Linked DNA regions of Homo sapiens: region 1 is linked to region 2. Evidence: fine-mapped expression QTL. A gene starts in region 2. The other region holds a variant in brackets. All regions are shown on one strand. Distances are between the middles of the regions. Region 1 holds the start of LUCAT1 (lung cancer associated transcript 1). Region 2 holds the start of ARRDC3 (arrestin domain containing 3).

The links.
Region 1: its variant is fine-mapped to the expression of ARRDC3 in monocytes after R848 (Quach 2016, PIP 0.95).

The regions. Positions count from the first base shown.
Region 1 is chr5:91,306,249-91,317,668 of GRCh38, reverse strand. It overlaps LUCAT1 (lung cancer associated transcript 1), which reads left to right and starts at 3,267. Exons shown (of 5, transcript NR_103548.1): 1 at 3,267-3,589; 2 at 3,892-4,031; 3 at 4,440-4,591. RefSeq lists enhancers at 2,968-3,755, 2,643-3,842, 5,287-5,831, 5,194-6,393. The variant C/T (reference allele first, on the strand shown) is at 5,561.
Region 2 is chr5:91,377,159-91,388,578 of GRCh38, reverse strand. ARRDC3 (arrestin domain containing 3) reads left to right here and starts at 5,262. Exons shown (of 8, transcript NM_020801.4): 1 at 5,262-5,766; 2 at 9,804-9,885. The coding sequence starts at 5,487. ARRDC3-AS1 (ARRDC3 antisense RNA 1) reads right to left here and starts at 8,232. Exons shown (of 3, transcript NR_027435.1): 1 at 7,655-8,232. RefSeq lists enhancers at 4,496-4,795, 4,675-5,192 and silencers at 5,046-5,355, 7,501-7,570, 8,191-8,370.

The sequences.
Region 1 (11,420 bases), 71 kb after region 2:
GTTGTGAGATTATATGTTTCAGAGTTTCTTCTATGTGTGTGTGTTTTTTGTTTTTTTTTTTTTTTTTGAGACAGAGTCTCACTCTATTGCCCAGACTGGAGTCCAATGGTGTGAGCCACCGTGCCCAGCCTTACATATGTATTTTTAAATGTTTACAGTAACCTAATGAAACAACATGTTGTTTTACTTTGTTTCATTTTAAAATACTGCTTAAAATTATTATAAGTAAACCAAAGTGGATTTCCTAAGGACTCATAGCTACAGAATATCTCAAAGCAGAAAAAGTAAAACTTGCAAGTGAATTAGAATCACAAAAAGTCTGAATATTTTCTGTTTTCATTGTTGTTACCCAAACATTTATCTCAAGTGGAAATATTTCCCTCTGGGCTCCAAAAGAGATTTGTAAAATTACTACTGCCTGCCAAAAGAAATTAATATTGCAAATAGTAATTAAACTCTGGGGGGTAAATAAAAAACCACAATTCACAATTATCCTTGAGTGGAATCTGCAAAGGTTGGAGGTAAGTGGAGAGCTCCTCTTTCAAAGTCAAATCAAGTCAATAGTGTTAAGCACCACAGTGTGGACAGGACCCACTGGACTAAACTCTGAGGAAACACAAAATGTGTGACCCAAAGTCCTTGTTCGCCAGAGACAATACTTATGTAGCCAAGGAAATTCCTGTTAGAAAACGGTTTGCAGTGAGTAGGAAGGATGGTGTAGAGGTGAATAGTGGGGTTATGGATAGTGTGGATTGTCATTCCTTTGATCTGAACCAGGGGTTGCAAAAACATAATCCGAAATTTGAATCAGCCCTTGCAGACAAGTTAAAGCATTTATAATGCTTAAAAGTGTGTTAGAAACCAGCTGGGTGTGGTGGCTTATACCTGTAATCCCAGCACTTTGGGCGAGTGGATCACTTGAGGTCAGGAGTTCGAGACCAGCCTGGCCAACATGGTAAAACCCCATCGCTACCAAAAAGAATAAAAAATTAGCCAGGTGTGGCAGTGTGCACCTGTAATCCCAGCCACTCAGGAGGCTGAGGCAGGAGAATCGCTTCAACCTGGGAGGCAGTGAGCCGAGACCATGCCACTGCACTCCAGCCTGAGTGACAGAGCGAGACTCCATCTCAAACAAACAAAAAAGTTAGAAACCTATTTAGCTTATTTCGGGCATAGCACAGAGCAGCTAGTCCAAATCACAAATTTAAGTTTTCTGTTCCTATAGGTATAGTTTTTGAGTCTCGTATCTAAGCTATCCTTGAATCCCTACTTGAAAGTTGACCAACATTTGTCAAACAAAAAAATCTAGAGAATACTGCTCTTTAATGACCAACATGAAAGTACTGTGCTACTAAATTTTATATTTATTTATTTATTTACTTATATTGAGACAGGGTCTCTTTCTGTCACCCAGGCTGGAGTGCAGTGGTATGATCATGGCTCACCACAGCCTCCATCTCCTGGGCTTAGGTCATCTTCCAGCCTCAGCCTCCCATGTAGCTGGGAACACAGGTGCATGCCACCATATCCAGCTAATTTTTTGATATTTTTGTAAGGACAGGGGTGTCACTCTTGCCTGAGCTGGTCTTAAACTCCTGAGCTCAAGAGATCCTCCCACCTCGGCCTCCCAAAGTGCTAGGATTATAGGTGTGAGCCACCATACCCAGCCTACTAAATTTTAATAATGGTAACTTCTGCAATTTTCAGGAAATAGCTACTAGGTAGGATTTCCTCCTAGGCCACTTTTCTCTTTTCTTTTTTTCCCCCTTCCCTTTCCCCTTCTTCTCCTTCCCCTTTTTCCTCTTCCCCTTCCCCTTCTTCTCCTTTCAGAAGGAGTCTCGCTCCATCACCCAGGCTAGAGTGCAGTGGGGTGATCTGGGCTCTCTGCAACCTCCATCTCCCAGGTTCAAGCGATTCTACTGCCTCAGCCTCCGAGTAGCTGGGATTATAGGAGTGCACCAACACATCTGGATTTTTTGGATTTTTTGTAGAGACAGGGTTTCACCATGTTAGGTCAGACTGGTCTCCAACTCCTGATCTCAAGTGATCTGCATGCTCCGGCCTCCCAAAGTACCGGGATTATAGGAGTGAGCCACCACACCTGGCCTCTAGGCCACGTTCTTAAAGCTTTGTCCTGTCACCATTTATCTGCCAGGGACAAAAACAAAGAAACAAACAGAAGTAAGCCGATATCAAGTAGAAAAAAAAGCAAAACAAGTTAAGATTCTATTATGCTAGGAAGGTAGGTATAGATAAGTTCCTATAGGACCCTAATGGTCAGGATATTGAATTTCGACTTTATCCTGAAGACAATAGGGAGTCTTTGATATGGAGACAGACTAGAAATGTAAAATCAGTCTCTACATTTCAGAAACAAGGCTGAGTGCCGTGGCTCATGCCTAGAATCCCAGCACTTTGGAAGGCCGAGGCGAGCGGATCACTTGAGGTCAGCAGTTTGAGATCAGCCTGGCCAACATGGCGAAACTTCGTTTCTACTAAAAATACAAATAGCCAGGTGTGGTGGCAGGCGTCTGTAATCCCCGGTACTCAGGAAGCTGAAGCAAGAGAATTGCTTGAACCCAGGAGGCAGAGGTTGCACTGAGCCAAGATCACACCATTGCACTCCAGCCTGGGCAACAGAGTGAGACTCAGTCTCAGTAACAAAATCTAGGCTGGGCGTGGTAGCTCACGCCTGTAATCCCAGCACTTTGGGAGGCTGAGGTGGGCGGATCACCTAAGGTCAGGAGTTCCGGAGCAGCCTGGGCAACATGGTGAAACCCCGTCTCTACTAAAAATGCAAAAATTAGCTGGGTGTGGTGGCATGCGCCTGTAGTCCCAGCTACCAGGGGAGGCTGAGGCAGGAGCATCACTTGAACCCGGGAGGTGGAGGTTGCGGTGAGCCAAGATCACACCACTGTACTCCAGCCTGGCTACAGAGTGAGACTCCATCTCAAAAAAGAAAAAAAAAAAAGAAAATCTATTGACAAGATTGACAAGAGTTCATTTTAAAGATGATTCTCTACACTTGGAGCATGGGATCTTGCCTGTCAGCAATTTTCAGCCGTCTCCAGATTAGTAACTGTGACTTGCCACCCTGGTTGATGGGCTGGCAGGAAGGAGTGTGTCATATCAGAGATTGCCACAGACACCCAGGGCAATGTGATTTGTCACTTAAAGAGGACGGCAGATCAAGAGCATCTCATCCTCCGGCTGCTGAGTCATCCTGCTCTGGCAGTTATTTAAACAGAAGGCTCCAGGAGACATACAATCAACACTCCACTCAGACAATGCCCAGACCTCCAGAAACCATGTGTCAAGCTCGGATTGCCTTAGACAGGTGCAATTTAAGAACAGCTTTCATCCTCTTTTCTCTCATATTGTCACACTATGTGTTCTGACTTCTGGCTCCTTTCCTCACAAGAAGCTCACCCAGCTGGAACTCTTATGGGACCTTGGCACCAGAGACCACAAATTCCTCTTTGAAGTTTTCTAACAGCAACAATGGTATTTCTGACTTGGCTTTCTTGTATTTCTCTCACGTTAACAAAATTGGTTCAGCATCTACCATGGGCTACATGCTGAGCTACAGGTAAGGTTTGGCTAAAGGATGAATAAGAACCCCTCCTTGTCTTCAGGAGTTTGTCTAGCAGAGGAGTCTGTCATGTAATCAGGAAACTCCAGTACACAACGTGATAGCTCTAAGACAGGTATATACAAGATGATGTTCTGGACCTTAACTGTTTGGGGAGTACTACTGCCTTTGTCTAAAAGCCATCACCCTTTTTATATGCCATTTGGGAGGAACTGGGGGGACGTGGGAGGCTTCAAAGGGTTATGGGAGGATGGACATTTTAAAAGGGCTTTTCTTTTCTTTTTTTTTTTTTGAGACAGAGTTTCGCTCTGTCGCCCAGGCTGGAGTGCAGTGGCGCGCGATCTCGGTTCACTGCAAGCTCCACCTCCCGGGTTCACGCCATTCTCCTGCCTCAGCCTCCTGAGTAGCTGGGACTACAGGCGCCCGCCACCACACCCAGGTAATTTTTTGCATTTTTAGTAGAGACGGGGTTTCACCGTGTTAGCCAGGATGGTCTCGTTCTCCTGACCTCATGATTCACCCGCCTTGGCCTTCCAAAATGCTGGGATTACAGGCGTGAGCCACTGTGCCCTGCCAAAGGCCTTTTCAAATCTAACGATGTACTCACATTTCCACCTGTCTGCCAGCCCTTGTCCAGTTTGACCTGGGCACTCACTGCTGCTCTGGTGGTGAGTACTGCTGATGGTTCTTTTCCCTGCCCATCCTTGAGGTGCTCGCTTCAATATGTCAAATGAGGACTCTCATTACATTTGGCTGTCATACATCAGCCACAACTGTCCTGCCCAGAAGAGCTGGCCTTGGCTTTAAAGCCTACATCCTGGCTGACCTTCTTTACTGCTTTATTAAGGAATCCAACTTGCTGTTTGCTATCACATGTGCTATACATGCTGTTGATGAAACTGCTAAAGGGGCTGAATGTGACTGACGTCTTTGGAAGGATGAGACTTAGCGTGCCTGTACAGTTGTGTCCAAATGCTGTCCTCATCTCCCAATGAAAAGGTATTGTAAATAAAGAGAAAGATCAGAGGCTTATTTTAAACACTAAATATGAGCTAGGAGCTGTCCTAGACACTATGTAAAAGTTTTATTTAGTTCTCACTGTAATGTTGGCCTTATGTTAGCATCCCATTTTTCAGACTGAGGAAATTATGGCTCAGAGAGGTTAAGAGACTTATTGAAGGTCACACAGCTCCACAAACTTTGGTGTAGATTGAACGTGTACATGGGTCTATGTGACTTTGAATCTTGCATTCTTTACATTATTGGAATATTTCACAGAAGGAAAATGACATATTAACATGGCAATAAGATTTCTGGTTCCAGTCTGGTTACTGGTCTTCCAAGAGTGTTATAGGATGTATAGCCTGAGCTCTGAAGCTTTGTTCTGAAGCATGCTATCAATATGAACAAATTGGTATGGAAGGAAGCCACAAATTATATACTAAAATCTAGTTCATCAGAGGAAAATATAGTTAAATACATTTACATTCCCAGAACTGTTAATATTGAAGAATAAAACACACAGTGGGAAAGAGACGAAGAGAAAATACGCCTGTTTTTATGACTTGTTGATATCTACAGGGTTTTTCCTTAAGCCTCACAACAATTTACAGCATTGCCAGCAGCATTCAGTACATTCAGAACAGGATAATTTCACCCGCAGCTGAACTAGGGCCATGCCTGGGACAGACAGAGAATGGCCTTCCAGCAGACATGCCAAGAAGCAAGCCAGGGTCAGTGAGTGAAGAGGAGGGCAGGCCCATTTGAAGCAACACAGTTTATGTAAGTGTGATCTAACTGCTTTCACTGGAAATGGGTCAGACTCCAGTTGAGAGAACCAGGGGCCTGAATGACCCCAGCAAAATCACTGTGGCAATTCTTTCAATCACCTCTGAGAATATGGCCCTGTGACGACATAATGACGTTTGGATTAATTCCAGTCGGCTGTGTTTTCCCCTCCTTTCTTGC[C/T]TCCCCGTAGTTGATTTGCCAAATTTTTTTTGTTTGCTTAAATACGCGGAACTAAACAGGATACATTATATGACAGTCTGTGATAAATTTACCACTGGGAATAGGGAAAAAGTATGGGATAAAGAAATAGGTATTTTTCGCCTCTCACAGCTGTGATTCAGTTCTGACTCAAAAGGAAGTGTGCCACCTACTGAATCACAGAAACCACTTCCTGTGGCTGTTTGGTTTATTCTGGAGGAGCATCAGGCCAAGTGCTGCCCTGCCCTGACCCTGACTGGCTCTTCAGAGCCAAGGCATTCACAGCTTGAGGTGGTTTGGCCTCAGACTCTTGAGAACATTGCATATTAAATTACAAGTGTTTCGTTTCCTAGCAAGGAGTCTTTAGCAACATGAAAACGAACGTGTGTTATTTGCAAACCAAGTATATCATTACTGAACCTGAATATCCTTACTTTTTCATAAGGTACGTATTCCGGATGACCACTCTTAAGATCTGAATGTACACTGGTTCTGTTTTTCCTGAGGGGAACTTGGGCAGTCTGCAGGGTGGCATTTACCAGCTGAGGGACTTCAAGAGCACCCTTTAATCAGTGTGGCAGCACTCAACTTGTATTCACTCACTCAGAGTATTTTTGAGCATGTACTTATTGCCATGTGCTGTGCTAGGTAGGGGTAGAGGGTACAGTGGTGAACAAGACCCCACAGCTCCTGACCTCATGGCTCATGTGTTCTACACCATAAGGGAATCAAGCTGTGTCTCCCGGGGCAGGGGCCTTCCTCTGTTCACCATGCAGCCCCAGCATCTAGCACCTGGCGTTGCATAAAGGAGGCTCTAAATCAAGCTTGTCCAACCCAAGGCCCACGGGCCACATGTGGCCCAGGATGGCTTTGAATGCAGCCAAACACAAATTTGTAAACTTTCTTAAAACATTATAAGATTTGTGTGTATGTGTTTTAGTCCATCAGCTATTGTTAGTGTTCATGTATTTTATGTGTGGCCCAAGACAATTCTTCTATGTGGCCCAAGGAAACCAAAGATTGAACACTCCTGCTCTAAATACTTGTTTGTTGAATAGATACATGAAAAGAAAGAAGGAGAGAAGGAAGAAAGGAGGGCGGAAGGAAAGGAAGAAGGGAGAGAAGAAGAGAAGAAAGAAGCAGAGAAAGGAAGAGAAAAGAAATTACGGCCAGTGCGGTGGCTCACGCCTGTAATCCTAGCACTTTGGGAGGCCTAAGCGGGCTGATCACCTGAGGTCAGGAGTTCGTAAGCCAGCCTGGCCAACATGGTGAAACCCTATCTCTACTAAAAATACAAAAATCAGCAGGGCATGGTGGTGCGTGCCTGTAATCCCAGCTACCTGGGAGGCTGAGGTAGGAGAATCGCTGGAACCCGAGAGGCGGAGGCTGCAGTGAGTTGAGATCATGTCACTGCACTCCAGGCTGGGCAACAGAGTGAGACTCTGTCTCAGAAAAAAAAAAAAAGAAAGAAAGAAAGAAAGAAAGTTACCATTAGTTTTTTGTTGTATTTGCAAGCAAAGACAAAAGCACCAAGGTACTTGTTTCCTTCTGTAATTAGAGTTTCAAATAGACTAAAAGTTTCTGCTCTTAGGTGGGTCTAGAGACTCTCCAGTACCTCAGGACCTCAGGACACATGGGGTCTCTTGGTTGTTTTCTTTTCATTGTTGTTGTTTATTTTATTTTTGTTTTTATTTTTTAACTTTAAAACAATTTTTTGTAGATGAATATGCTTACATATGTTTGGGGGTTTTTTTGAGACAGGGTCTTGCTCTGTTGCCCAGGCTGGAGAGCGGTGGTTTAACCACAGCTCACTGCAGCCTCGACCTCCCAAGGTAGGGACTGCAGGTGTGTACACTGGGGTGCACCACCACACCCAGCTAATTTTTAAATTTTTTTTTGTAGATATTGTCTCACTCTGTTGGCCAGACTGGTCTTGAAATCCTGGGCTCGAGCAATTCTCCTGCCTCGGCCTCGTAACGCGTTAGGATTACAAGCGTGAACACCGCACCTGGCCAGCATGTGGTCTCTTAACCAGAGGAGGCCTCTTCTGAACTAGGTAGAGGTCCTGAGAATTGATTCTGAGAGTAAAAGGCTCTTTGTTCTCCTCAGAGTAGATTAGAATCCCTAATGATAGAGCATCTATTATTCCTCTAGTGGTCCATGCCCAACAGATTCATCCAAGAATAGATGAAGATCTTTGTAATGTTGTGCAAGTAATCTAATCACCCCACAGAAGAGCTGTGACTTAAATTATCCCAGAGTCGGCCCACCTGTTTTCATAAAGATCAATGTAACTTGTAAATTTCTTCAGTTCTCCTCACCTATCATCATTTGACTAACAAAACCCAGAAAACTAGGCTAGTTATGGTGGCCTATGCATATAATCCCAACTCTTTGAGAGGCCAGGGTGGGTGGATTGCTTGAGTCCAGGAATTCGAGACCAGCCTGGGCAACAAAGGGAGACCCTGCCTATATCCCAGCTATGCAGGAGGCGAGGCCAGAGGATTGCCTGAGCCTCAGAGGTTGAGGCTGTAGTGAGCCATGATTGCCCCACTACACTCCAGCCTGGATGACAGAGTGAGACCCTGCCTTAAAAATAATAATAATAGTAATAATATTTCATAAAGATACAGGAAACTAGATTATAATTGACATTTTCAAAGTGAAATACTGTCTAGAATGGTGCTTGGCCAACAGTAAGCTTTTTGTAAGTGGAAGTCATTACTACTACTATTTCTTTCATTATTATTACCATTACTACTTTTTTTTACAAAAAAAAAACCCTGGACAACACACTGAAACCATTACTACTTCTACTACTATAACTTAGGTTGCACCTGATAGAGCCAGCAATTTTTCCAAGGTATGACAATGGCCATATGTTTAATGATATAATTCTATGGCTCAGTGTATCTCAGCCTTTTTAAACCCTGCTCTTCTTTTGACAATTGTAAAAATCTTAAACTGACCTCCAGTTGAAATCCTCTGTCAAGAAGATATTGTCGGCCAGGGGCGGTGGCTCACACCTGTAATCCCAGCACTTTTGGAGGCCGAGGTGGGAGGATCACTTGAGGTTAGGAGTTCAAGACCAGCCTGGCCAACATAGTGAAACCCCATCTCTACTAAAAATACAAAAATTAGGCAGGCATGGTGGTGTGTGCCTGTAATCCCAGCTACTCAGGAGGCTGAGGTAGGAGAATTGCTTGAACCTGGCAGGGCAGAGGTTGCAGCAAGCCGAGATCACGCCACTGCTCTCCAGCCTGGGTGAGACTGTCTCAAAAAAAAAAAAAAAAAAGAAAGAAAGTAAGAAAAAGAAGAAATCCCAATCTCTTCTTTTATGTGGATTCTTCCTCACTTGAATAATACTTTTCTTCCCCAGTATTCTCCATATTATCCCAGAGTCAGCCCCTCTGTTTTTGTAAAGATCTACGTAACCTCCTCTAAGTTTCCCAGTTCTCCTCACCTATCATATCATTTGGCTCAACAAAGGGCAGGAAGCTAGATTCTAATTGATATTTTGAGGCCGGGAGCAGTGGCTCATGCCTGTAATCACAGCACTTTGGGAGGCTGAGGCGGGCAGATCACTGGAGGTCAGGAGTTCGAGACCAGCCTGGCCAATATGGTGAAACCTCGTCTCTACTAAAAATACAAAAAATTAGCCAGGCTTGGTGGCTTGTACCTGTAATCCCAGCTACTCAGGAGGCTGAGGCAGGAGAATAGCTTAAACCTGGGAGGAAGAGGTTGCAGTGAGCCGAGATTGCTCAATTGCACCCCAGCCTGGGTGACAGAGCAAAACTCCATCTCAAAAACAAACAAACGAACAAACCTGATATTTTCAAAATTGAGGCAATTATAACAGCTATTTAGCCAAGCATTATGATAGCAATAATAGCAAGAAAATAAATTAGTTAACAAATGAGTCTCAGAAGCCCAATGATTTTTATTTTATTTTTATTTTTTGAACTTTTATTTTAGAATCAGGGGATACATGTGCAGGTTTGTTACCCGGGTATATTGCATGATGCTGAGTTTTGGAGTATGCATGAATCCAACCTGTCATCCAGGTAGTGAGTATAGTACCCAACAGATAGTTTTTTTAACATTTACTTCACTCCCTTCCCCAATCTTGTATTCCCCTGTGTCTACTGTTCCCATTTTTATGACTGTGCCAACAATAATTTTTTTTCTTTTTTCTTTAAATAGAGATGGGGGTCTCTATTTAAAGAGCCTCCCAAAGTGCTAGGATTACAGGTGTGATCCATTGCACCTGGCCCATGCCAACAATATTTGAAACCCTTATCTGCGTGTACAAGTTTGCTACTGGTTTTGTTTTGCTCATTAATACATCCCAAGCATCTATACCTGGCTTGTAGTACCAGCATGTAGTAGGTGCTTAATAAATATTTATTGAATAAATAAATTAGTTTGACATTAGTTTAACATCTCAAGTAAAACAAAATACCATTCAATTAATTCTCTTCTTCTACTTTTTTCTTTTAAGAGAGACAAATAGTCACACATACATCAGCAGGAGAGGATACAATTTCCTGTGTTTAAGTTTTTATGAGTTACTTTAGTTCAAATGTCACAGAAAATTATATTGAACTCTTGACCAATCTATCTATTTTTTCCATTGGAGTATTGACCCAAATAAGAAATAGCATAAAGGAAAAATTATTTTTTGGCAGAAAAATATTCTCTCTAAATTCTTGTGTGTTTTGTTTTGATTTTTTCCTTAGTGACTGGAGGCCAGTTTCAATCCACTGAAGCACAGATTCCAAATTTTCAATCTGGTTTTCTTGAGTAGTGACTGAGTGCCAAAAATGAAGCAATGACACAACATCACCATCAAGACACTCCCCAGCACGCACACACATGCCAGAGTCCAACACCAAGATACTCCCCAGCACGCACACACACGCCAGAGTCCAGGCCATATTCGGGTGGCTTGCAAGCTTCTTCCCCCCAAGTATTTACTCTCAAAATAATGGTTTTTGTTTTGTTTTGGTTTGGTTTGGTTTGTTTTTTTCCAAATACATTTCTTCCCTATATCTTTAACCAATTCTCATAAAATTTTGTCTAATACACTGGTCAGTGTATTCCAGACCCTAAAAGATAACATAATGAAACTATCTATGACTAAAAGGTAATCAGGATCTTCTACTTATCCTTTTTTCCTCCCTCTTAAACTTTAATTTTGATACATTTGGGAGTGAAATGATGACAATAAATGCAAAGTAATTATTGAAGAAACAGTAATTTTGTATTAGCTTACTGAAAAAAAAAAAAAAGATAACCAAATATATTTTGGCAGCCCCAAACGAGTCACATGTGAAATGCAGTGGGAGAGCAGTGTCCTGAAGGAAAAGGTGGCCTGCTGGACAGCCAAGAGAACAAACATCCACTGCAAGTAATATGAGCTCTAAGTTTGGACTAGGCCTATGTCTGCTCTGAGACTTGGGGCAATTCACTTAATCAGAGCCTTAATCAGCTACGGACTAGCAATATCCATACCCGCTACTTATTTTGTAAATCTCCTTTCTAAAGTTAACTCTATTTATTGTTCCATAATCCCATAAATTCTAGAATCTTTTCCTGTTATAGCCAAGTTGTCTATCATTGACAGAGATATTCACCTGGTTGTTTTGGCTTCTCTAATCCTCCTGGTGAGAACACCTCCAAGGGAGCTTTCAGTGGCATTTAAGGTCACTTGTGCTCTTGGTCCTAGAAACTGCCTTGATAGTGGTTTTAGCTCACATGAGGTAAGTCTTTATTATATGCCCAACCTCTTTATGCATTACTTCATTTAATTGTATACTAATCCTTTGTCATAGGTTATCAG
Region 2 (11,420 bases):
GGAATACTATGCAGCCATAAAAAAGAAGGAAATCATGTCCTCTGCGGCAACATGGGTGCAGCTGGAATCCATTATCTTAAGTGTATTAACACAGAAACATAAAGCCAAATACTGCATATTCTCACTTACAAGTGGGAGCTAAACACCAGATACATATGGACATAAACATAGGAACAACAGACACTAGGGACTACTGGAGCAGGAGTAGGAAGGGTTGAAAAACTACCCATTGGGTATTGTGCTCACTACCCAGGTTATGAGATCAATCATACCCCAAACCACGGCATCACGCAGTATACACATGTAACAATCCTGCACATGTACCTCTGAATCTAAAATGAAAGTTAAAATTTAAATAAATAAGAAAATAAAAACAAAAATAGAATGGGTTCTCAGGTTGCTTAAAGGCAGGGAGTTGACTTAATGACTTTAATGGGCCTCTTCAGCCCTTTCATCCCTGGGAGAGTAAAATATTTCAAAGTAGATATGCTATGCTATATAAGCTACATATCCTATATAAAATTATCAAAATGTTGGCCAGGAACGGTGGCCCACACCTGTAATCCCAGCATCTTTTGAGGCCAAGGCAGGCAGATCACTTGAGGCCAGGAGTTCAAGACCAGCCTGGCCAACGTGGTGAAACCCTGCCTCTACTAAAAATACAAAAATCAGCAGAGTATGGTGATGACGGCCTGTAATCCCGGCTTGAATCCAGGAGGCAGAGGTTGCAGTGAGCTGAGATTGCGCCACTGCACTCCAGCTGCGCAACAGAGCTGTCTCAAAATAAAATAATCAAATGTTTGAAAAAAAATTTAAAAAAAATTTTTTTGAGACAGGGTCGCACTCTGTCACCTAGACTGGAGTGCAATGGCACGAGCTCAGCTAACTGCAGACTCAACCTTCCAGGCTCAAGTGATCCTTCTACCTCAGCTTCCTGAATAGCTGGGACTAGAGGCACATGCCACCACACCTGGCTAATTTTTGTATTTTTTGTAGAGACAGGGTCTTGCTATGTTGCCCAGACTGGTCTCAAACCACTGGACTCAAGCAATCCTCCCACCTTAGCCTCTCAAGTTCTGGGATTACAGGCATGAGCTACCACACTCAGCCAGAAAATATTTTATTACAGCAAATAAAATTTTACCCTCATTATATAAAGTTGTGCATAGTCAAAAGTCAAAATTTATAAAGTAGTTCAGAAAAGAAATTTAGCATTCCTAATTCTTTCTGTAGACCAGATGCCATTTGAGCTTAGATGAATAAACTTTACCAACTCATCTTCTACATGATAATATGCACTGCCATAGCTTCACTGGCAATGCTCTTCTTTAGTTGTACATCTGGATGGAAATACACCAAAATGTTAACAGTGGTGTCTCTGAATGGACGGACAGTAGAATTATGGGTGATTTTCTTTTAATCAAGAAATAAAATATAACAGATTAAATGGTGTTCACATAACACAAATTATACTATTTATTAATGAAGGATATCAGAATCCAAATTTGATAGTGAGTTTCATCACAAAATCCATAACATATTTAAAAGTCTATTAAGTATGAAGAACATAACAAACATAATATGCGTTATGTTTGTAATAGCTCTCAAAGCTAAAAAACAAATACTACTCATTTTGCTAATAATACAGCAAGTCTTCTGTCCAGTCTGCATGCCAAATTTGCTGCACTGTGACGATATTAAAGAGTTAAGTCAGAGTTACAAAATCTTGAAATACAGAATTAAGACCAAAGGAAAAAAATCCCCCTTAGTCCCATAGCACTCGAGCCTATCAGCTGCTAGTTAAAATAGATTAAGCATAGATTTCATATTTTTCTTTATGAAACAGATTCTGACTACTGGTAGGTTTTTTTTTTTTTCAACCAAACACCAAAACTTCCAGTTGAGATGGCTTCCTTTTTTTTTAAAAATAAAAATATTGAGCATGTTGATATAATATGCAAAAAACTCCAAACTTGGCAGTAATCTTAACATATCTCCTCAATATCATACAACTTGACAGCAATGATCATTTATCAGTCTTTGATAGAGTTCTTGAGATTGAGTTCAAACTTTAATATATTAAGGTGAAAGAGCCATTTGACTCAAAAGCTAATATAAAAAGAGATTCCTACTTAAGCTCTGAAGAAGCAATGAAAGGGGAAGGGAAGCTAGTTATTCAGTCTAGTTGGAATTTTACTCAGTAGTGCCAACTGCATCTAGTGGAGGGATTAGAAAAAAGCAAAGGAGATAACATAGTAGTGGGATGTTATTCTGGGCACCAAAAGCACATGTAACTGCATACTGGCAACAGTGAGACAAGCTAACAAAGGGGACAGAAGATGTACTTGACAGGATTATAGAGAGTTAGCAGATGAGTAGGAGGAGATGGCATATGAGACGTAGGCTGGGGAGAAGTAGGAAAGAGCCTTGATGGTAAAGACGAATAGTTTAAATATAATACAAAATACAATAATGGCCCAGTGAAGCAAGCTGAGAAGCCCAAGATAATGTCTACAGTACAGCATTTCAAGCTGTCTAAGGAGTAGCTATTTAGACAAAAAATCTGAAAGGGGGAAGTTATGAAAGCGACAAGAGAAAACATTCAAAATTTGGTCCAAGCGTTTTTGTTTTTGTTTTTGTTTTTAAGAATTGAAAAGATAAAGCGAGACCAGGCGCAAGCGGCTCATGTCTATAGTCCCAGCACTTTGGGAGGCCAAGGCGGGTGGATCTCTTGAGGCTAGGAGTTCAAGACCAGCCTGGCCAACATGGTGAAACCCTGTCTCTACTAAAAATACAAAAAGTAGCCAGAGGTGGTGGTGCGTGCCTGTAATCCCAGCTGCTCCGGAGGCTAAGGCAGGAGAATCGCCTGAACCCGGGAGGCAGAGGCCGCAGAGAGCCTAGATTGTGCCACTGCACTCCAGCCTGGGCAACAGAGTGAGACTCCATCTCAAAAAATAAAAATATAATGAAAATGGCAGCTGGTAAGAATTTCTTGGAAATTTGCCAGTTACCTAAGTATTTAAGAAGACACAGTAAAAAGAAAATTTTAAAAATAGCAAAATAAATAATAAAGACAACTATTCAAAAGATCCTGAAAGCTTCAAACACAAAGAATAATGTACTACACAGTGACAGGAATGAAACATTTAATATTTTAAAACAATTTTCCAAACTACAAATAAATTTCTTAGACTTCTTTTTTATTAAATGCAATTCTGGTGTATTTATATAGCTAATTCTTATTTTTTCTGAAATGAGTTATATTCTAATTAAATAAATTTTACTAAAAAAATCCGAATTCAGCTGTTCACTAACCCTTAATAATTTTTAACATAAATGTAGACACAAATGTGCAATGAATTTATGTATTCATTATGGACTACACTTTTAAATCCATTCCTTGCTCAGTGGTTTTCGAATGCTTATTAAATATCATTGACCTTATGCTGAGGAAAAGCTGTCATTCTAGGAAATTCACCACTTCTACCACTAGGTGGAGAAAAAACACAAGTAGTATCTGTAATCAAAGCTAGTACAAGGCCCCAGGTACTTTACCTAGAATTTCCACCAGGTGTCAACCAAGAGGTAGGGAAAAGATAAGACTGTTTTTCCCACTTAAATATGCAAATTTATAATTTTATGCATAGCGATCTAAACTCTGAAATAAATGGCCTGCTCATTAATTGTCTAGTTTGCATATTTATACTCTTTATATATTGCTGTTGAGTCCAAGATATTGCCTTGTCAACTAAAATCCAACCCCCAAAAGCTTAGTTTCTTTTGAAATAAAACAGCAAGACCAATAAGTTTAGTTTATTGTGACTCATAGGCTCAACCTATCCATATACACTACGCAAAAGAATCTAAAACGTTTAGACACGGACAGCCAAAAATCTTCCAAGGTATTTTTGGTCATACATATATATATAGAGAGAGCACCAGATTCATATTTTTTCTTTCTACATTTCTCTTGTAAGGCAGTTCTGTTGATTGCCAGTAATCTAGATGAGTTTATGCTGTTATGCTCTGAATCCCAGTGTGATGTGACGAAAGCACTGCTATTTTTTACCAAACATTCACAATAAAAAGAGAAATGTACCTATATTTAAGATGTATCATGAGAATTACTACGTTAAATGGTCCAAGGCTCTCGGCCGAAAATTAAAGCTTCACACAGTTAAATCCCTATTTATATACCAAATCATGCTTTTTAAAAACAATTTTATGCGCTTCACTAATTTCTAACAAAGATTTTCCGATTCTGTTGCAAACAATATGTCAGCTAAACCACTATGTCATATGCCTTTTATAAGGTAGTACTTTTTTAGGCCGAACTCTATTCTTATTCCTCTGGACACAGGAGTTGTAATCATGTCTTACTCTGCAAATCTAGCCGTAGGTGGTGTCTTAAAAGGACTTTTTCTTCCTTCGAGGAAGTGATCAAGCTTCCCCCAGCCCCCACCCGTGTCATCCTGGAAACAACTTGGTTGTTTTTCGGTGCTAATTAAGCAATGTAGGAGAAAGAAGTTGAGGAGACAGCAAAGCCTATTGATTACATTGTACTTGCTTCTCTACCTCGCTCTTCAAAGGATTAAGGTTCCTTTGACCTCGACTGAGTTCATTTCCAACCTGCCTACAAAGTACTGGTTTAAAAAAAAAAAATCCAAGCAAAGTATGCTCTTGTCTATGAACAATATTTCTTGTCCGGTTTTATTACGTTTTCTTTGGAAATTCGTTAGATTATGCTCAACAATCGGCCGCTTGCCCAACCGGTTTCTCCCTTCCCCCATCTCTCTTCACACATCACTTTTTCCTCCTCCCATCCAGGCAGTTGGTAAAACGCTGCAGTGCCGGTAACGCACGCTTCGGGCTGGTCGCTGCAGTTTATCCTAACTTGGCTTTGCAAACTCCCCACCCAGCCCTTGTACCCTCGCACCCCACTCTGCCATTATCTTTCTAGTAGAGTGCGCTCGGTAACGGGCTCCAGATAGCACGTCGAGGGTATACGGTAGCCTGCCTACCAATAGGAGCCCACAATGAAGAGAAGTCAGGTTCAGCCGGCCAGCAGCTCCAGTATCTCCTTCCCCTAGCTCTACACCTACTGTACCCGGGAGCGAGCGGGCAAGGGAGCGAGCGCGGCGCGGCGCGGCGCGGGAGGGGGCGCGCAGGGAGGGCGGACAGCAGCCGCGGCCTGCGCCTGCGCACTGGGGTTGTTTTTCACAAAGCTGCTCTTAAAGTGAGCTGGCAGCTTTTAGCCGCCCGTCTTTGTAAGGAGACCACTGAGACGAGCGGGAGCGCGGAGCAGCAGCCTCTGCTGCCCTGACTTTTTAAGAAATCTCAATGAACTATTTGTAGAGAATCACTGATCCGGCCTGCAAGCATTTTGCACGGCAAAAATATCGATCAGTGTTAAGTGAAGATCACATTTTATATGCGATCTTGACTTTTTTGTCTTACATTATATTTTTATAGATTTTGTTATAAACATGGTGCTGGGAAAGGTGAAGAGTTTGACAATAAGCTTTGACTGTCTTAATGACAGCAATGTCCCTGTGTATTCTAGTGGGGATACCGTCTCAGGAAGGGTAAATTTAGAAGTTACTGGGGAAATCAGAGTAAAATCTCTTAAAATTCATGCAAGAGGACATGCGAAAGTACGCTGGACTGAATCTAGAAACGCCGGCTCCAATACTGCCTATACACAGAATTACACTGAAGAAGTAGAGTATTTCAACCATAAAGACATCTTAATTGGGCACGAAAGAGGTAAGTTTTTGTTATTCATAAGTCATTGGACTCATTTTCTTTGGAAACGTACCTTTTCAGTTTTCTGAATTAACGTGATTCTACTCCTAGCATAACTAAGCAGTTTGAGAAAGGTTAGCAAAGTTGGAAGGTTTGGATTCTCCTTGACGTTCATCGTGTGTTAAGCCGTAATGCATGCAGGCATCTGCAAAGTGACTGCAAACTACACTTATTCAGCTACCTCTGTACCCGGCTCGGTCTGTGCCACACGCACTTGTAGTCCATTTGCACCTTACTTATAAATTCTGTTTGAATCCAATTCAGTCGTTTTACTAATATATTTTCAAATGAATTGGTAAAAGCTGCAGTCTTAGATTTTTGCCCTTTTACTTGCAACCTAAGATGTAAAAACTGAACTTCGATCAAGAAATGTAATAACATTTTTAAGAGACTTAATGGGTGTGTTTCATTTTTAATATTGGAATGCAAAAGACTTTAAATAATTGATGACTGTTCTTTCATAAAAGATTTCTGTGGCTTATTTTGACATATGGTATCAACACCCCACGTGTTTTTTCTCTATTCTTTACCATTCCTTTAAAAATTTACACCCAGCATTCCTTATTTTAAAGGAATGACTATCTGTCATTATGATAGGTATCGAGTCAGGTTTAGAAGCCATTTAGGATCAGTAATTTTCTTTTCCGAGCATCATGTCTAACTTTGGAACGTGCATTCAATGAAACCCATGCCAGTCAAATGGAATTGAAAAGTATAGGGCACACTGGATTTGATTTTTGGTTAGAAGAGAGAGATAAAGGGTTGTCAAAAGGAGAAGGAGTCCTGAGATTTCCAATCTATTGTTTAAATGGTTACATTGTGGAAATATAGGAGACTCTAGGCTTGTTTTTCTAAGTTTCCACCCTTTGTTAGAAGCGGTTCAATCCTGTTTCGGACCAGTTCTGGGGGGTGGTGAGGAGGGGCGCTTGTTCTGCTCTCAGCAGATTGGTTACACGCGTCAGGTGGTGGCGATGACTTAATTCCTAGCCCAAGAAGAATATAATGTTAAAACTGGTTATGTAATTTTTGTGCCTCTCCTTTTTAATGCAGTATTTAGTTCAGATGTTGGCGATTTTTCAGAAAAAAAATTAGAGACATATTTTACCTTATTTTTTATATTAAAAACGTACATCCTGGAGAAGTGCTGATGACTAAGGCAAGTGAGAAATGAAGGATGCTTTGAGGGACAGTATTAATGCATTATTTTTGAAACTATTAAGGTGAACTCAGTTCTTTAGCAGGATTTTCGTAGTTAGATACAGGTACTTTGCATCCTGAAATAACTAATTAATCTCTCCAAGTGTTAACACTGATAGGAGATGCAAATGCCTAATGACAGCCTTGGTATTTGTTGAAAAGCAGATAGATGACTTTGTGTTTGTACCTTTCTGAATATTGCAGCCTTTTATGAAACGGATGAAAGAAAACAGATTTTTCCTCAAGGGGTTAAGACTTGCAGTGGGGAAAAGTAGAACAACGAGATGTGAGGACAAATATAATTTCATTAGTTGCACCATGATTTCGTGGTAAAGAAAACTAAATGCCCTGCACCCCCAACAAAATGCCCCCCAAACCCTGCAACGCGTAGACGAGCTCAGTCTGGAATAGTTTCAATGACTTGAAACTGGGAGCTCTCAAACTAGCCTGGTAACTGAGACCCCGCCCCGGGCGCCCGGGATAGGCGGAGCCAGGTTTGTTAGCCTGTTGCTAAGGCGATGGCAGGCGCTGATTGGATTGGGCGCGGGCGGGTGGGGAGAGTGAGCTCGCGCCGCGGCTGGGGCGAGGCTAGGAAACCGGCGTGCGCCGGTAAAGGTTCCTCCAGAGCGACCCCCACCCAGCCCGTACTCACGTTTGTTCCCGGGCTTCTGGGGGCGCCCAGCCCGTGTCAACATCATGTTCTGTCGCCCCTCTTTTGGGCCTCCTAAGGGCCATCGAAAGGAAACGACTTCAGGCTTTAACTGAGTAGAGGGCAGACGCTCCTGCCGGCCTTACAGGTGCTGGATGGCCATGGACCCAACTTTAGCAGAAAATCCTTTTCAGATGGAAGTTGGATGGGAAGGGTTGGCAGGACCCCCGTTAGCTATCTTCCGAGTGGGAGGTGTCAGGGGACTCCTGTGAACGCTTGTTTTCCCCTTAGCTGAAACAAAGCTTGTTCCCCGACCTCTCCAGTCGCCACACTGTCTACCTTGAGTTGACCTGAGGGGACAGAGCAAAGGCTGGCCCGAGGAAGAAGGAAAGTGATTCCAATATCGAAATGTTGGGGGAGGGGGGGGCTTCGACGGGTATCCTCTGCCCCCTCCCCCATCGTTTTCCGAAGCCTTCGGGCCCCCGCCTCCCCTTCGCCACCCCAATATCCCTTGCCGAAACTAAAGGTGTCAGAGTGGCCCGAGCCAGATGGAACCGGTCGCCGGCTGGGGCGTGTAAAGCGGAAGCGCCGCGGCTCGCTCGCCCCGCCCCCCGGCCAGCAGGCTAGGTTGCGCGGGCACGGGCGCGAGCGCCGCGCGACGTATGCCGTATGTATAGCGGGGCGCGCGGGCGGCAGCGGCGGCGGCGGCGGCGCGCGGGCAGGCCGGCTGGGATCTGCTCGCGCCGGTTTAGGCCGGTCCTCTCCTGCTCCGGTCTAGTTCTTGATTGACAGCCCGGCACTTGTTTACCACGGCGCGGCCGCCGCCGCTCGCTTCAATGAGACTGCTGAGCTGGCACAAAAAGGGAGCGAAGAGGGAAGAAAGGGAAAGGAAGGCGAACTTCGGGCGCCTTCGAGGGGAGCGAATTTAAATGGCCCCCAGCTCATCAGCTAGTTTTTGGTTCTGAAATCCGTTCAGGGGAATTTGCACAGGGGACGAGGAAAATTGTATGGAGACATAAGCGAATCACCATGATTTTTAAATGAAAGTATCGACGTATACATGCTTTTTTCCCCCTTTTTCTCGTTTAATATCAGGGAGGCATCACGTTTTTTGTGTATATCCAATACTTTGCTGAAGGAAAGTTAAATAATGTGCCAGTTTTTTCTACTCTGGGGGCTAATCGTAAAGGTTTCTACACCAAGAAAACTTTAAAAGATATTTCTGTAATTATTTAAAACGCTAAATAGGCACTTTAATGATCTAGAACCCCCTCCCATATTTTCGATTATATTTATTTTCATGCCACTTGAAAAAAAATAATTTCACCAAAAAAATTGGTTGTAAAATGAAAGGTCATCCCTTTTTTATAGAAACTGGAAACTATTAATAGTTAGACTTCATTTTTTTCAAGGATGTTGGAAAATATTGTTTCCTTATAAGCCGACACCACCTAAATGCGGTTCTTTGTAATTATCTAAGGTATAGTTTATGCAAGTTTTAGTCGTTGCTAGGACCAACTGAGTGTTGTGATCATTTTAGATCAATAAATAATTATTTTTAGTTCAATAAATAATTATTTTTAGTTATAAATCTGACATTAAAATCAATGTGTGGCTTTTTTTTTTTTTTTTTTTACTCCGTCTATTTGACAAGGTTTTCTAGTGGTTTTGGAGTATCTATTCTATTCACATCTGGTATTATTATTCCCTATAAACTGACATATTTTAAGAGGGTTGCATGAACAGTTTTTCTTTGATACATTATAGTCTTAATGTGATAAATTTAAGCAAACCGTTGGAGACAAAGGATAGCATTGTCTTACCATGATGTGAGACCCGAGCCTTTTGAGTATATATACTATTTTATAAACAGATGCTTTGCAGTTTGGGTCATTTTCCATTAGAAAAAATAAAAAGCCTGTGGGGTGTGAGTATTCATTATCCCCATTTTACAGATAAGGCAGCTGACGACAGGATTTTTATTTTGTCCAGAGGAAATGATGAAGTTAGAATTAGAACTCAGATCTCTCAGACTCCAAAGCTTGTTTTGTGGTCTTAATTGTTATGTAAGCATCTTTAAAGTTATGCCACCCTGCGGAGTATGTAAATGTTGAATAATAAATTCTTTGTTTTCTTTTTATGTTTGTTTTAGATGATGATAATTCCGAAGAAGGCTTCCACACTATTCATTCAGGAAGGCATGAATATGCATTCAGCTTCGAGCTTCCACAGACGTAAGTATTATAAATAATAGGCATTTTTATAGATACTTATGATCAGAGCATTATTTTAAAATTAAGTATTCTAAATTTAAACATTTTTAGTTGAAAAAAAAACCCTTTTCATTACTGAAACTTGCTAGAGGAAAACAATATATTAAACATAAGAAGCTATTTTTTAATCTAGCGTGGCAAAATTATAGAAAGCATACTCAATTTTCAGTATTCTTTCCTAAAGTTTATGAGGTTTTTAAAATAGGAATAGGGTTTCCTTTAACATGAGTGAATTGGAAGTTGCTAGTCGAATAATAACCACTTTATACTTAGTTTATTATCAATTATCATTATGAGAAAAGATAGACCCTATCAAGTCTTAGTAGCTTCAATTTATAAAAAATTCTATATTCTACTTTTTCTGCTAATACTAACCAATAGCAGTAAGTTTCGAAAATAAAAATAATTAGGAATATCCTAACTTTAGAAATGTTTTTCTTCTGATATGAACTTAATAGCTTCTGTACAAAGAACTATTGGGAAGGTCACACAAGAGATATGACCCAGGCTTAAAAGGAAACATGCATCAAGGATACATTAATATAAAACTTGGAATCTAGTAAGAAAGGAAAAAGGAAAGTGGTATATTCTTAAAGTAATGACAGATTGTTGGAAGAGATGATACAAACTTTTTAAAAAAAAATGCCTTTTAACAAATATTAAAACCTGCAAAATGGCACTTGTGGTGATTATTCTGGAGAATAAACAGATTACATAAGATTTTGTCAGGTGACAAATGTACATTAATTCTGCATTTGTTAATTCTAGTGCTTGAGATGTTATATATAGAGAGAGAAGTCATAAATGGTATTTTTTAGAAAATTCTATTTACTGTATTATTTGAGAATTTTATTTGGAATATAATGCCCTCATCTAATTTCTGAGAAAAATATTAAAGTCTGTTGATAGAATAAGGCCAATATGGGGCCTGAGTATTTTCAGCGTCATTTAATGTTAAAGTTCTATCCATAAACCAAAGTCATTTAACATAAATTTTGGATAACTATTAGCATACAGTTTAAGATTTTATTTCTCTGCTATACAAGTTAATGTGGGAGTCTAAAATGCAAAAAAAAAAAAAAATTATGAAAACACCAGTGTTTCTTATGCTAATCTAAGCTAGCACTCTTGTAAATAACTGAACATTGAGTATTTTACTAATGAAATTATGAAAAAGATACTGAACTTGCTAAAATAAAACCTTCCACAAGTAAAATCTGACAGAGTTAAAAAAAATTTTTTTTTATTCTCTTGACATAGATCAAGAGGACTATATCTTTTTCTTTTGAAGCCCGTAAAGTTAGAGAACAGCCAAACAAGAATTAGAACATGAGTAAACTGAGAGATACAAAAGTAGTTTTTCAGTAAACTTAGGAAATGTGAAATTTTTGAAACTATAATGACTATTCCAGGCCTTTTCTAGACCTTAGTTAGTTGCTATTAAAAGATGATAATTCCCGGCTAATGAGAAGTGGAGTACTATAGGGAATTTGGTC